Linked DNA regions of Homo sapiens. The main gene of each other region encodes a partner of the protein of the gene in region 2 in a complex. Links are inferred from orthologs where the notes say so. Each region holds a gene or a part of one and is shown on either strand. Other genes may lie near its edges.

Region 1 (7,402 bases), on a different chromosome or scaffold from region 2:
AAGCCCACCTGGGAAGAGTGACAGCATGGGGAGGCACGCGTAGGCCTGAGCCGCTCCACAGCCCTGGGGAGGGCAGAAAAGGAGGAAAGTAGGCAGTGCAAGAAACAGGAGGAAACCCCCCAGAGCGCAGCCTCCTGGAAGCGGAAGGGAGCACTGAAGAGGAGGTGGTTAGTGGTGTCAGAAGCTGCTGAGAAGCCAGTTAGATAAAGCGGAGAAGCTTCCTACTAGGACAGCTTCCTCCCAGCCCAGTGTGGCCACGCTGGTGTCCTCGGTGACCAGACACGTGGCCATGAATTTCTCAGTGTGCTTTATTGTTGATTAAATGCAGTCGGCTCACGAGGCTGACTTTGGAAACAGGAGGTCCGTGGGTCGTGGAATAAGAAAGGGCATCATGGTTGCAGAGGAAGGGAAGGAAGCCCACGGCTGCCTTGGGGAGCTTTCTGAAAGGCAGGTCTGATCATGCCTCTCTGGGCTACGGTCTCCTCACGGTGGCTCCTGGTTGGAACTGAAGTGGTCCCCTTGGTCCCTCTCTCCCATCTCAGCATTAGCCAGGACTTCTGGCTTGGCAGCCCCAGCAGGCTGCCCCTTGCAACACCTCTTTTCCACATGATCGTGCCTTCCAAACCTACTTCCAGCGTCGCCCTCTTCAGGGAGCCTTTCATAACCACCTCCCCCTTCCACTGGCTAAAGATGAGGTTGAGCAACTGCAGGACTTGGGACCTTGTTCCTGCCCCTGTGGCTGCCTGGATCCAACTGTGTGGTAATGTCTCTGCTTCTAGGTGACTCCCCTGCTAGACCGAGAGGCCTGGGAGAGCTAACATGGACCATGGGTGGTGCTGAGCCTGTCTCATGCATCTGCTCAGCAAATCTGCACAATAACTCCATAAAAGCCTCTTTTGACCAGTGAGGAAAGTGAGGCTCAGACAGGAGAAGGTGCCTGTCCCAGGTCACACAGCTGAGCAGCAGGGATGGGTTTTGAGCTCACCCCTAACACCACAGCCATGGCGCCAATGGACACCCTATGCCCGGCATAGGGCAGGGTGCATGCTAGGTGCTCATGAAATGTTTGCTGAAGGAATAAGCAAGCCAAGACAGGCAGCCCACTGGCACCTCTGGGGAGGCAGTGGCCAGGGTGGAAGCAAGACTCATTCCACCAGGACTCATTCCACCGCACCACCCAGCCCCTGGCGTGCTCTAAGACGGGTGTCTTCCCTCCTTCCAAGAAGGCGGGGGAGGGAAGCCCAGCACTGGGTCTCACCAGTTGTTGACTTTGGGTGGCTTCCAGAGCAGGCACCCACTCAAGGGACTTCAGGAAAGTGCTGGGGGTGGGGTGGGGCGGGAAGGGGCAGCCATTTCACCTCTTCACTCTCAGCTGCTTTAGGGCTCACCCCTGCCCGCCTCACCTAGGACCTGACACCCATGTTTGTTTCTCTCACTGATCAATGTTGGGCTTCACATTGTTGGACCGGTTCTTGTTGCTTCCACATGCAACAGGCCAGGCAGCCACCTGCCTTGCACCTGGGATGGACTTAGGAGAAGGCAGAGGACCATTTCTAAAAGGTGGGGACAATCCCTTCTTAAAGTTTTCTCAGATCCTCTGGGGAAGATGCCTGGGTTCTAGTTTATGTCCAGCTCCCTGGTGTCTCTGGTCCATTTGTCACCCCTCCTCAGGGAAACCCTCTCTCATCCTCGGGCTGAGGCTGACTGTCTGTATAACACACTCGCCCCTCAACACCACTGCAATTGACATTTATTTGTGTTTTTGGAGATGGGTATCCATCTCCCCTACCAGCCTGTGAACACCGTAAGAACACAGATTGTTGAGCCCTGGCACATGACTCACACCTGTAATCCCAGCACTTTGGGAGGCTAAGACAGGTGGATCACTCGAGGTCAAGAGTTCGAGACCAGCCTGGTCAACATGGTGAAACCCTGCCTCTACTAAAAATACAAAATTTAGCTCGGCGTAGTGGCAGGTGCCTGTAATCCCAGCTACTTGGGAGGCTGAGGCAGGAAAATTGCTTGAACCCGGGAGGCGGAGGTTGCAGTGAGTGGAGATTGCACCACTACACTCCAGACTGGACGACTGAGCATGACACTATCTCAAAAACAAAACAAAAAAAAAGGGACTGTTTTTTGCTAAACACAAATCGACCCCAGGCTTAGTACCCTGCCCGGCATTAGTAGGTGCTCCCCAGATATCAGCTGAATAAACGAATGATTCTGGATCGGACTCCTAGACTTGCTACTTCTCTGTGACCATTGTGACCTTGGTCAGGTTGCTTCACCTCTCCATGCCTCAGTTTCTCCCTCTATAAAACGGCACTCGTGATCACCACTCACCTCACCTAATCCTTGTAACTCACTATCACAATGAACGTGGAGAAATTCCTACTGAGAGAAAGTGCACGATAAACAGAAGCTGTAACGCCCTGAGAAGGCGGGACTGGCTCGAGAGCACCCAGTCCCCGCCACGCCTCGCCACCCCCGGCCAAGGGTCGCGCAGCCCCTGGACGCCCTGCCTGGCTCCGAGGCCGGCTGCGGCCCCGCTTCTGGGTCCTCCACCGAGGCCCGAGCCCCCGGCCCCGGCGCCGGGGAGCAGAGGGCGGTGCAGTCAGTTACCTGGCAACGCGGTGGCTGCAGCCCACCGCGTTACGTAGCAACAGGGCGGGGATTACCCACTTAAGACCCCCGCCCGGTTACCCAGAAACAGGATGGGGCTCTCAGGTGAGGTCTACCGGCCTCTCTGCCTCACACCAGGATGGGGCTCATAAGCCGGTTACCTAGCAACAGGGTGGGTCCCCGCGGGCGGAGGCCCCTGCCGGTTGCCTGGCAACAGGGAGGGTGGGGAGCCCTCAGTACCTTGCCCTTCAGGTCCAGCACGTAGACGGCGCTGGCGGACATGATGGCTGCAGGAGGCCTCGGCAGCGGCCGAGGGCGGTGGCGGCGGCAGCGACGGTGGGGACTGCTGGGCGTTGAGCAAGGCCGGGCGCCGCCCGCGACAGCTCACCTCCACTTCCGGTTCGGGGAGCCGCGCGGGGACCGTTATGTCCGGTCCGGGAGGTGCTGTCAGGAATGCGCAGGCGCAGGACGGACTGTGCGCAGGCGCATTACGTCGTATGTAACCATGTTTCTTGCTCCCGCCAGAAGCATCCCGGAAGTAAGGCCCGGTGGGGCGGGGCCGACCAAATCAGGGCACCCAGTGGCCGCTGCCAGGCTGAGCTATGGAGCCAGAGCAGCTGGAAACGGCCTCCCGTGGGCCGAGTTAGGCGAGAGAGCCTGGTGGTGAAACCGACCTGGGGCCCAGCCCTATGGAGCTCACAGTCTGGTGGGGAAGTCTATGAAACAAGTGTACAGTCACCAATTGTGATAAGCTCAAAAGAGAGAGGTAAGGTCGTGGTTACTTGGAAAGAGGTCAAACAAACTTTCTGAATGGCAATCAAACCTTATCAACAGTCACCACCTGTCATTGTCAACATTTATCAATGAATGAGTGTGCCTGTTTATTGCCTGGAATGTTATGAAAACCAGCCTCACTGAACCTTGACCCAACATACCGTGTTTCATTTCTGCAAAGTTAGTAATCAGTAATGCAACTGGTGGCCCTTGATTAATCCATTGAGTCATATTTAATTTGCTTTTATGAACTCTTGGGCTTTGGAGAAATGCCTGCATTCTGTTCCAGTTAGCCATCATAGTACCCTGGGGATCCCAACCCTGCAATACCAGAGTGATTTACCCAGGATGCCTGCCTCTCACATCTTTTATTTTCTGTCTTATCTCCGTTTTGGCGTTTGGAAAGATGATTTTTGCAACTCGGTAATTATATAGTGTTTTGCTTAGGAAAGAAATGTGACCGAAACTCTAGAGAAGCAAACTAGAATGTTTGAAGACTGCTAAGTGACTCCTGGGCTGGAAGGATTCTTGCTCAAGGCACAGAGCAAGCAGCCAAGAGAGGGTTTTTGTTGTTTGCTTTTTTTTTTTTTTTTTTTTTTGAGATGGAGTCTCACTCTGTCACCCAGGCTGGAGTGCAATGGCATGATCTCGGCTCACTGCAACCTCTGCCTCCTGGGTTCAAGTGATTCTCTTGTGTGTCAGCCTCTCAAGTGGCTGGGATTACAGGCATGTGCCACCACACCTAGCTAATTTTTGTATTTTTAGTAGAGACGTGGTTTCACCATGTTGGCCAGGCTTGTCTCAAACTCCTGACCTCACGTGATCCACCCACCTCGGCCTCCCAAAGTGCTGGGATTACAAGGGTTAAGTTAAATATTAAAAGATAAGAGAGCCAGTGCCCTTATACAAAGGCTGGGATGTAACAAAAGCCCACCCAGAGTTGTGCCTAGGCCTTTCCTGGGCCTTGAAGCATGACAAGATAATGAAGGAATTCTTAACAGGACCCTTTTAGGATTAAACAAGCTTTATTGGCGGTCTGAAGAAACTCCTCAGGCCTCCACAAACAAGTTTATTGGGGTTTGAAGGAACTCCCCCAAACCTCCATGATTTAGCAGGAGATAAGATAAGGGTAATCACCCCAGCACCTGGACCCACTTAGATTAAGTAAATTTACTGAGGCTCCAGAGGAAGGTCTTCAGGACTCAGATCTTAGTTATGGGTTAAAAGACTATAACTTACTTACGTCTTTAGATGAATGCACACCTACACGTAGACATATAGCTTAGAAGGTATATGAGCTCTGGAAGACTTTGTAATTTTGGGTTGGTCTGGTGATATTTTCCAGGCCTTCTCCCTGTAACCAGTTACAGAAATAAAAACTCTCTTCCTCCCTAGTTCATCTGTGTCTCATTATTGGGCTGTGAGATATAGAAGCCCAACCCTCAGTTTGGTCTGGGAATAGGTTAGGAGTGGGGGTCTCAAAAGCCCCCCCAATACAACACACACAATAAGAACCACTGAGGCCTGAAAGCCATGTATAGAGATTTTGTTTTAATTGGTCTGGGCCAGGGTTTGGTTATTGGGATTTTTCTTTTTTTTAATTTTTTTTTTGAGACAGAGTCTCACTCTGTCACCAGGCTGGCATGCAGTGACACGATCTCGGCTCACTGCAACCTCTGCCTTCCAGGTTCAAGTGATTCTCCTGCCTCAGCCTCCCAAGTAGCTGGAACTATAGGTGCCTGCCACCATGCCCAGCTAATTTTTGTATTTTTAGTAGAGACGGGGTTTCACCATGTTGGCTAGGATGGTCTTGATCTCTTGACCTTGTGATCCGCCCGCCCCACCTCCCAAAGTGCTGGGATTACAGGTGTGAGTCACCGCGCCTGGCCTTCTTTTCCTTTCTTTTTTTTTTTTTTTGAGGCACGGTCTTATCCTGTCACCAGGCTGGAGTGCACTGGTGCAATCTCGGCTCACTGCAACCTTCACCTCCTTGGCTCAGCTGGGACTACAGATGCACACCATCAAGGCCAGCTAATTCTGGTTTTTTGTTTTTTTTTTTGAAACAGGGTCTCGCTCTGTCACCCAGGCCGGAGTGCAGTGGTGCAATCTCAGCAGCTCATTGCAACTTCTGCCTCCTGGGTTCAAGCGATCCTCCAACCTTAGCCTCCTGAGTAGCTGGGACTACAGATGTGTGCCACCAGGCCCAGATCAGTTTTTGTATTTTTAGTAAAGATGGGGTTTCACTATGTTGGCCAGGCTTAATTTTGCGATTTTTGTACAGATGGGGTTTCCCCATGTTGCCCAGGCTGGTCTCAAACACCTCGGCTCAAGTGATCTGCTCGCCTTGGCCTCCCAAAGTGCTGGGATTAAAGGCATGAGCCACTGCGCCCAGCCTGGTTATTGGGATTTTTTTCCAAGCTCCCCAGATGATGCTAATAGGAAACAAAATTTGAGAAACCCTGGTGTATCATAATAGGTATGATCTTTCTTTCTTTTTTTATTTTATCTTTTTGAGACTGAGTCTCAAATAAAAAAAAAAAAAAAGTTGCTTGGTTCTATGGCTCATGCCTGTAATCCCAGCACTTTGGGAGACAGAGACAGGAGGATCACTTGAGCCCAGGAGTTTCAGACTAGCCTGGGGAACATGATGAAACCCCATCTCTACAAAAAATACAAAAATTAGCTGAGTGTGGTGGCACACACTTGTAGTCCCAGCTACTTGGGAGGCTGAAACAGAAGAATCACTTGAACCTGGGAGGTTGACAAGGCTGCAGTGAGCTATAGTGGCATCACTGTACTCCAGCCTGGGCAACAGAGTAAGATCTCTAAAACATTACAATAAATGGGGCAAAATATGAGACTAGGTCCAACAGGGTTTGTTACATATCGCGTCTATTTCTGTTAACTCTTGGTGAACAGACCCTGATGTTCTTCCTGAGCAGTGGGAAGTCACAGCTGTGGCCGGGCTTGGTGGCTGACACCCACAATCCCAACACTTTGGGAGGCCGAGGCAGGAGGATCACTTGAGGTTGAGGCCAGTAGTTTGAGACCTGGGCAACATAGGGAGACCCTATCTCTACAAAGAGATAAATAAATCAGCTGGGTATGGTGATGTACACTTGTGATCCCAGCTACTCAGGAGGTCGAGGTGGGAGGATCACTTCAGCCTGGGAGGTCAAAGCTGCAGTGAGCCGTGATCACACCACTGCACTCCAGCCTGGGCAAGAGAATGAGACCCCATCTCAAAATAATAATAATGGTAATAATAATAGTCCTGACATCTCATCGGATTCCTTCTAGAGCTTAATCACTGGGCAATTAGTATCAAAAGCCTCTCTTGGCTGGGCATGGTGGTTCACGCCTGTAATCGCAGCACTTTGGGAGGCCGAGGCAGGTGGATCACCTGAGGTCAGGAGAGTTTGAGACCAGCCTGGCCAACATACCGAAACCCTGTCTCTACTAGAAATACAAAAATTAGCCGGGCACGGTGGTGCATGCCTGGAATCCCAGCTACTCCAGAGGCTGAGAGGCAGGAGAATTGCTTGAACCCGGGAGGCAGAGTTGCAGTGAGCCGAGATCGCACCAATGCACTCCAGCCTGGGCAATGAGCGAAATGCCATCTCCAAAAAAAAAAAAAAAATTAACCACTTAGTCAGTACTTAAACAGTCATTATGAAGGCCGGAGGCCTGCATTAGTGAGACCTGGCCTGCCACAACACTCCCTACACACAATAAGAATCTCTGTTCTCCAGGCTCGCTTTGAACTCCTGGGCTCAGGCAACCCTCCAGCCTCAGCCTCCTGAGCAGCTGGGATTACATTTGCATACGTCGCACTGTGCCTGGCACCAGAACTTGGCGGTTTTTAATGCTCCCCAGGTGATTCTAATGTAAATTTGAGGACAGCGGTGGTGGACTGTAAGGGTATTGGATCCCAGTAAACCACACCTCCTAGTGTTCATGCCCTTGTGGAGTTCCCTGCCAGACTCCGGGTTTGGCTAGGTGGCTT
Region 2 (7,328 bases):
CAGCCTGGGCAACATGACAAAACACTATCTATACAAAAAATACAAAAATTAGCCCTGCGTGGTAGCACACGCCTGTAGTCCCAGCTACGTGGAGGGCTGAGGCAGGAGGATCGCTTGAGTCCAGGAGGTCCAGGCTGCAGTGAGCTGAGACCACTGCACTCCAGCCTGGGCAACAGAGTGAGACCCTGTCTCAAACAATAAAAATAATAAAAAAAAAAAAAAAGAGTTTTTATAAATCATAAAGAAGTTGGTTTTGTTTGCATACCACTGATTTTTAAAACTCCTTTTTTAAATAAACACTGGGGTGAAATATCACCAAGGCATTCCTGGCAAATTCTGTACTTTAAAGTTTCACTCTAAAATCTGCCCTCAAATCTAGAACTGCTATCAATGACAGAGGTCAGACCAAAGAACAAGCAACTGCCCCCAAAAGAAAACGGAGGTTTCCTAAACGCAAAGCAGACATTCAAATATGCACTGATCAATGGTGCACTAAACAACACTTTGCTAGGAATTTGTTAAGGCAAAAGGACCCTTTCTACAGTGAATGCAAACTATCTAAGAATGAATTTTTAAAAGTTTAATATTTTTAAATATTTTGGTAGAGACGGAGTCTCATTAGGTTGCCCAGGCTGGCCTCCAACTCCTGGGCTCAAGGGATCCACCTTCCACCTCCCAAAGTGTTGGGATTACAAGCATGAGCCACTGAGCGCCCGCCTGAATGACATTTAAATACCAATATATTAAAGCATGAAAAACACTGAGTTAACTAACATCTATGTGATAGCTCTTCTAACACCTTACTTGAAAAGTCTAAGTCAGAAATGGAACATTTCAGTAGTAACTGCGAGGGCATACTTACTAAATGAGTGAGCATTACATAGGTGTTCAGTGTTTGACAGTTCCTTTAAACCAAAAGAGAAAATTCCATTGCTTCAGGGTAATACAGAACTCACGTATCTAATAGTAACTAATATATTTTTGAAAAATCTGCTTAAATAACAAGATCACTGAGTATTTAAACTGAAAATATTGTTTTCTTCTGAGACATCATATGACCTATAGAGGAATTTATCTACAATCTCATTTCAATAACCTGATAATAATAATGCATCTATAAGTGGCTTAGCAATATTAAAAAGCTTGACTCAATTCAAGTTATAAATTTAAACTTCAACCACTAGACTGTGATCTCAAATAAGTTAATTTCTCTTTTGCAGATGTGAAAACCCAGGCTGAGATGAAATAAGGGTGATTCAATCACACTCGCCTAACTTGAAACGTAGGAAATGTATCAGTGAATAACTGTGAAATACTTTTTGCCAGGCACGGTGGCTCACGCCTGTAATCCTAGCACTTTGGGAGGCCGAGGCGGGCGGATTACCTGAGCTCAGGAGTTCGAGATCTGCCTGGGCAACATGATGAAACCCCATCTCTACTAAAATACAACAACAAAAAATTAGCCGGGCGTGGCGGCGTGTGCCTGTAGTCCCAGCTACTTGGGAGGCTGAGGCAGGAGAACTGCTTGAACCCGGGAGGCGTAGGTTGCAGTGAGCCGAGACCGTGCCACTGCACTCCAGCCTGGAGACAGAGGGAGACTTCGTCTCAAAAAATAAATAAATAAAAATAAAGACATACTTTTTATTCAAGCATGCTAGACTGCAAACATGCCTTTAGAATAAAAGTGACGAGATTACGAGTACTTAGAGGGTTCATATTTTTCAAACGTGAAAGTTAGGGTGTGTGACAAGTTAGGTATTTGACAAGTATTCTAGGGAACGGTGGAAGTGAATATTTAAAATTCAGCTATCCCCAGAAAAACCCAATACATGAAATCATTACAAGTATTTTTTAGAATCAGTCAGCAAAGATCATTACTGTACAAACACTTCAAAGTTAAGGTCACTAAGAAAGCACTAACTCCTCCCTTCTGTTAACTAATCACTGTAAAGCAGCCCAACTCTCCTTTCTACCTACCTCAGATTAATATTTTTCTCCATGGACAGATTTCCGTGCTCAGGGATATATAATAGGGGAGAAAAAAAAATACCACACAAGTGTCAGTAAGCACCAAAAAGCTAAGTATTCAGCACAGGGAGGGAATCCACATATGAGAAAACATTTGACAGCTCTTGCCTCCCAAAAGCCATTTAATCTGCTTCATAAACATAATCTGCTTCATAAACATTACCCTGAGCGAGTGGTTCGATGGATCTCCTACACCGAGTCCTAACCGGGAAACACAATCAACCGAACCGTCCCGACTCTTTCAGGCAATCAGGAAGACCGGGAGAATTATTAGACGCTGACGTCCGCAGGGCCAGGAGCTGAGAAAAGGGTAAACAGTATACTCGCAGGTAGGTTGAAAAAAACAAAACAACAACATATACACACACACACGAAAAATTGGGAAAGAAGTTGGTCGGAAGGTTAGAGAGAGGCGAGGCCGATGTCCGGTTCCGAGAGGACGGCACTGCAGGGGCAGGCAGCGATTAACTGGGCATTTGGATATGCTGGGAGTTATCTGACAGACCTGACACGGGTACAAGACACAAGAACGCTGATACGTGGCTCAGAGAAGACACGCGGGGGTGGGGCCCGCCCCGCTAAACCCCAGGCTCCCTGAATGAGCCCTCAAAGATCGCAGCCTGAGAAAGTCAAGGGTTCAAGGAGGCCCGTACCGGCGGGGCAACGCCACAACACGGAACGCCGCGGCGCGCGGAACCTCCCGGTCCGAGGCCTCGGGGTCGGCCCTCCAGAAGTCGGAGCAGCCCCTGGGGCTCCCGGCCTCTCCTGGCCCAGCTTCTCTGTCTTCTCTTCTCAACACCCACAGCCTGGGACTGGACCCCTGAAACTGAAAGGAAGCTTCCGGTCGAGCGCCCGCGGCAGCGGCGGGGCAAAAGCAGCAATATGCTCTCAGCGCCGGGAGTGACACTCACCGGCCCGAAACCTCGAATGAAACCAGCAGCTCCGGGGGCGGCGGCAGCAGTGGCAGCAGGAACCGAACATCCAAAATGGCGGCTCCCTCGGCCTCACCACCGCTACCGCAGGCGGAGGGATCCTGAGGAAGGAGGGAGTTTTTAACTAACTTCACACACTATTGAGGAAACTTCGCTCCCTGTCCTCCTCTCCTGGTCGTTTCCGTGTCCTCGTACTGCAACTTATCGTGCCTTTTCTCTCGAATTATCCAAGAACTCGGACCCTGCCGAGGACTATTTGCCAAGGAGGAGGCGACTGCTCCTGGCAGAGCGACGCAAACGTAGCAAGGATCGGGGCTGTCACTGATGACGCGAGACGCTGCTGCCGAGTCACCGCTGCGATGAGTCTGAGCGAGAAAGATCCGGCCTACCCCGTAGCGGACGGACATTGGTTCCGCTTGGTGAGGGGGTAGGGGGGTGGGGGGTAGGGGGGTGGGGGGGTAGGGGGGGTGGAGCTGGGCTACCAGGAAGCGGTGGAGCCACCTGGAGGGGGCGGAGCTAAGTCAGGTAGCCCAGGAAGTGAGAGCAAGCGAGACAGGTGGGGGCGGAGAAGACAGCAGGGCTGAAAAGGTCTTCGTCCACGGGAATCCCGAACTCTTTGCTGTCTCCTTTAAGATTTTTGCTTTCTTTATAACTTAAGGAGCATGCTCCAGGTGGTATTCTATGGTTTTATGGTGTCTTTGCAACATATTTTATGAAGAGTTAAGAGGATGACTGAAAAGAATGGATTCCACGCCCGGTACCGCGGTGCTTGCACTGCTCAAGTCACTTAAACTCTCCAGGGATTCAATTTCCTCATATGTAGAAAGAAGACTTGGACTCATGTTAGCTGAAACCCTTACAGAATGGGCTTTCGGTCTATGACTCCATGAATTAATAACCAGGGCCAAAGAAAGTCTAACCAGACAGTTCCTAACCTGATAAATAATTACTAACATATGACGTGAGTCTTTTCCATGTGAATGTAAAGAGGGCCTGATATCTTGGCCTGTTTAAAGGAAAGGTGACCTACCTAGACTAAAATCCTTCTGCTAGATTGGCAACAAAGTACAATACAACACAGCAGCAGGCTGGGTGCCAAAGAGAACAGAACCAACCACACAAAAAAAATTTTTTTTTTTTTTTTGAGACAAAGTCTCGCTCTGTTGCCCAGGCTGGAGTGCAGTGGCGGGATCCCGGCTCACTACAACCTTGCCTCCCGGGGTCAAGCAATTTCTCGTGCTTCAGCCTCGCAAGTAGCTGGGATTACAGGCTCCCGCCACCACGGCCGTCTAATATTTGCATTTTTAGTAGAGAGAGGGTTTCGCCATGTTGGCCAGGCTGGTCTTGAACTCCTGACCTCAGGTGATCTGCCTGCGTCGGCCTCCCAAAGTGTGGAGATGACAGGTGTGAGCCACCGGCCTGGCCAGAACTAACCACAAATCTTGAGTTTAGGATTTGGGTGTCATAGAGAGAAGGTTGCACTTTTTTCCTTAGTCATTTTCATGCAGGGATTTCAAAACACTTAACAAAAATTGCTCTAAGTAGGCCGGGCACAGTGGCTGACGCATGTAATCCCAGTACTTTAGGAGGCCGGGGTGGGCGGATCACCTGAGGTCAGGAGTTCGAGACCAGACTGGCCAACATGGTGAAACTCCATCTCCACTAAAAATACAAAATTAGCCGGGCATGGTGGTGGGCACCTGTAATCCCAGCTACTCGGAAGGCTGAGACAGGAGAATCGCTTGAACCTGGGAGGCAGAGGTTGCAGATAGCCGAGTCTGGGCGACAGAGTGAGACCCTGTCTCACAAAAACAAAAAAAAATTGAACCAAGTAGGCCCATCTGTACAATTTTGTCCCTGAACTACTGGGGCATGCCAAGTGGCTGGAAAGAAAGGAGGCCATGGGTGCGATAATAATTATCATTTGTATTATTAAATATTGATATCACATTGTTCATAAGGCACTTTCATGTGTATAATCTAATCTGACCCTCTGGACAACCTCCTGAGTCAGGCTAGGCAAGCATAAGTAACTTAGTTTTACAAATAAGGAAAAAGAGGCTCCAAGAAACTAACTTGGCTAAAAGACACATCCTCTCCCCTCCTCCACTGGGGTTCTGCTACAGAGCTATAGAGTGCCTTTTTTTTTGAGACAGAGTTTCACTCTTGTTGCCCGAGCTGGAGTGCAATGGCGTGATCTTGGCTCACTGCAGCCTCCGCCTCCCAGGTTCAAGTGATTGTCCTGCCTCAGTCTCCCAAGTAGCTGGGACTACAGGCGCATGCCACCACGCCCAGCTAATTTTTTGTATTTTTAGTAGAAACGGGGTTTCACCATGTTACCCAAGCTGGTCTCGAACTCCTGACCTCAGGTGATTCACCCACCTCGGCCTCCCAAAGTGCTGGGATTACAGGCATGAGCCACCATGCCAGGCCAGAGTGCCATTTTATAAATTAGCATAGGGTACCACAATCTTCCACCACCCCTACCTACCCACCCACCTACCTACCTACCTACCTACACACATACCTACACTCTCAGGGTGGATGGAGTCAACCCCCAACAAGTGGTTTAGAGAACAGAATGTTTACAGAATTCAGATCCTCTGCCATGCTGCTACTGTACAGTGCAACCATGGACTACAAGGCTAGTAAATAGTGGAATGAAGCCAAAACACAATTTCCTCTGAGGTATAGCTATGCAGGGAACACAGGCCAAACTTAGTTTGGGGTTTCCACATAAGTAAGAAGTTTGCAGGTTGCAAAGCAGAGTTAGCTAAAGTATTCCGTTTGGAACACCACAAAAAAATGCTTAGAGGTCAAATTTAAATGTGTATCATTGTGAACCACAAAAGAAAAATTAAGCCAGCTACCTAAGGAGGAGAGAGCTTTTTTTTTTTTTGAGACGGAGTCTCACTCTGTCCCCAGGCTGGAGTGCAGTGGCACGATCTCAACTCACTGCAAACTCCGCCTCCTGAGTTCACGCCATTCTGCTGCCTCAGCCTCCAGAGCAGCTGGGACTACAGGCGCCCGCCACCACACCTGGCTAGTTTTTTGTGTTTTTAGTAGAGACGAGGTTTCACATGTTAGCCAGGATGGTCTTGATCTCCTGACCTCGTGATCCGCCCGCCTTGGCCTCCCAAAGTACTGGGATTACAGGCGTGAGCCACCGCTCCCGGCCCCGGAAAGATCTTTTTTCCTACCATATCGAGTGCAGAGCGTTAAAGAGTTTTAAACATTAAAAACTAAACCCTTTCTCAGTACTTTTTAACTTACATTTCTCTTTATTTTGTTTTTGTTTTTGAGACAGAGTCTCTGTCGCCAGGCCGGAGTGCAGTGGCATGATCTCAGCTTGCTGCAACCTCCACCTCCCGAGTTCAAGTGGTTCTCCTGCCTCAGCCTCCCGAGTAGCTGGGACTACAGGCACGTGCCACTACATCCGGCTAATTTTTGTATTTTTAGTACAGACGGGGTTTCATCATGTTGGCCAGGCTGGTCTTGATCTCTTGACCTTATGATCTGCCCGCCTCAGCCTCCCAAAGTGCTGGGATTACAGACGTGAGCCACCGCGCCCAGGCCATTTATCTTTATTTATAATTACCAAACCCTTCTTCCATGCAACTAAAATTAAAAGCAGTTGCCCCAGCTGGGCACAGTGGCTCACACCTGTAATCCTAGCACTTCGGGGGGCCAAGGTGGGAGGATCACTTGATCCAAGGAGTTTGAGAACAGCCCAGGTAACATAGTGAGACCCTATCTTTCTTCCTTCCTTCCTTCCTCCCTTCCTCCCCCCTCCCCGCCCCTCTTTCTTTCTTTCTTTCTTTCACGGAGTTTCACTCTTGTTGCCCAGGCTGGAGTGCAATGGCACAATCTCGGCTCACTGCAGCCTCCACCTCCCGGGTTCAAGCAATTCTCCTGCCTCAGCCTCCTGAGTAGCTGGGATTACAGGCATGCGCCACCACGCCCAGCTAATTTTGTATATTTTAGTAGAGACAGGGTTTCTCCATGTTGGCCAGGCTGGTCTCGAACTCCTGGCTTCAGGTGATCCACCTGCCTCGGCCTCCCAAAGGGCTGAGATTACAGGCATGAGCCACCATGCCCGGCCTCCTCATCTTTTAAATAAATGAATAAAATAAATAAATAAAAGCAATTGCCCCAATATGTAGCATAGTCACATTATCTTGGAATCTTTGGTTTCCATGGCTAGTGATTTAAGTTTAGAAAGGCTTACTCCCCATCTTCTCAAACATAATCCCTAATTCCAGATAAATAAATTACAGCACATCTATAAAAGGTAATACTATGCTACCAATAAAATGAAAACCTTATTATTATAGTATGGCAGACTTTAAAAGGAAATATTATAAAACA

What was found.
Region 1: the proteins of AP1G1 (region 2) and AP1M1 are in contact, whole or in part, in a cryo-EM structure (PDB 7R4H), measured with the Mus musculus proteins. The link is inferred for Homo sapiens from one-to-one orthologs. Residues at the interface, in NP_001288140.1 of Mus musculus: Arg24, Glu25, Gln28, Lys29, Ala32, Arg35, Ser36, Arg39, Glu40, His64, Phe65, Gln67, Leu68, Gln97, Val99; in NP_031482.1 of Mus musculus: Ser289, Asn318, Asp319, Ala320, Asp321, Ser322, Trp334, Pro336, Glu337, Asn338, Ser339, Gly361, Leu362, Pro363, Ser364, Val365, Glu366, Ala367, Glu368.

Annotation. Positions count from the first base shown.
Region 1 is NC_000019.10:16,193,529-16,200,930, reverse strand, and holds the start of AP1M1 (AP-1 complex subunit mu-1), read right to left. Parts: upstream 3,021-7,402; 5' UTR 2,905-3,020; coding exon 2,863-2,904; intron 1-2,862. UniProt on the Homo sapiens protein: Subunit of clathrin-associated adaptor protein complex 1 that plays a role in protein sorting in the trans-Golgi network (TGN) and endosomes.
Region 2 is NC_000016.10:71,805,824-71,813,151, forward strand, and holds the start of AP1G1 (AP-1 complex subunit gamma-1), read right to left. Parts: upstream 3,012-7,328; 5' UTR 2,940-3,011; intron 1-2,939. UniProt on the Homo sapiens protein: Subunit of clathrin-associated adaptor protein complex 1 that plays a role in protein sorting in the late-Golgi/trans-Golgi network (TGN) and/or endosomes.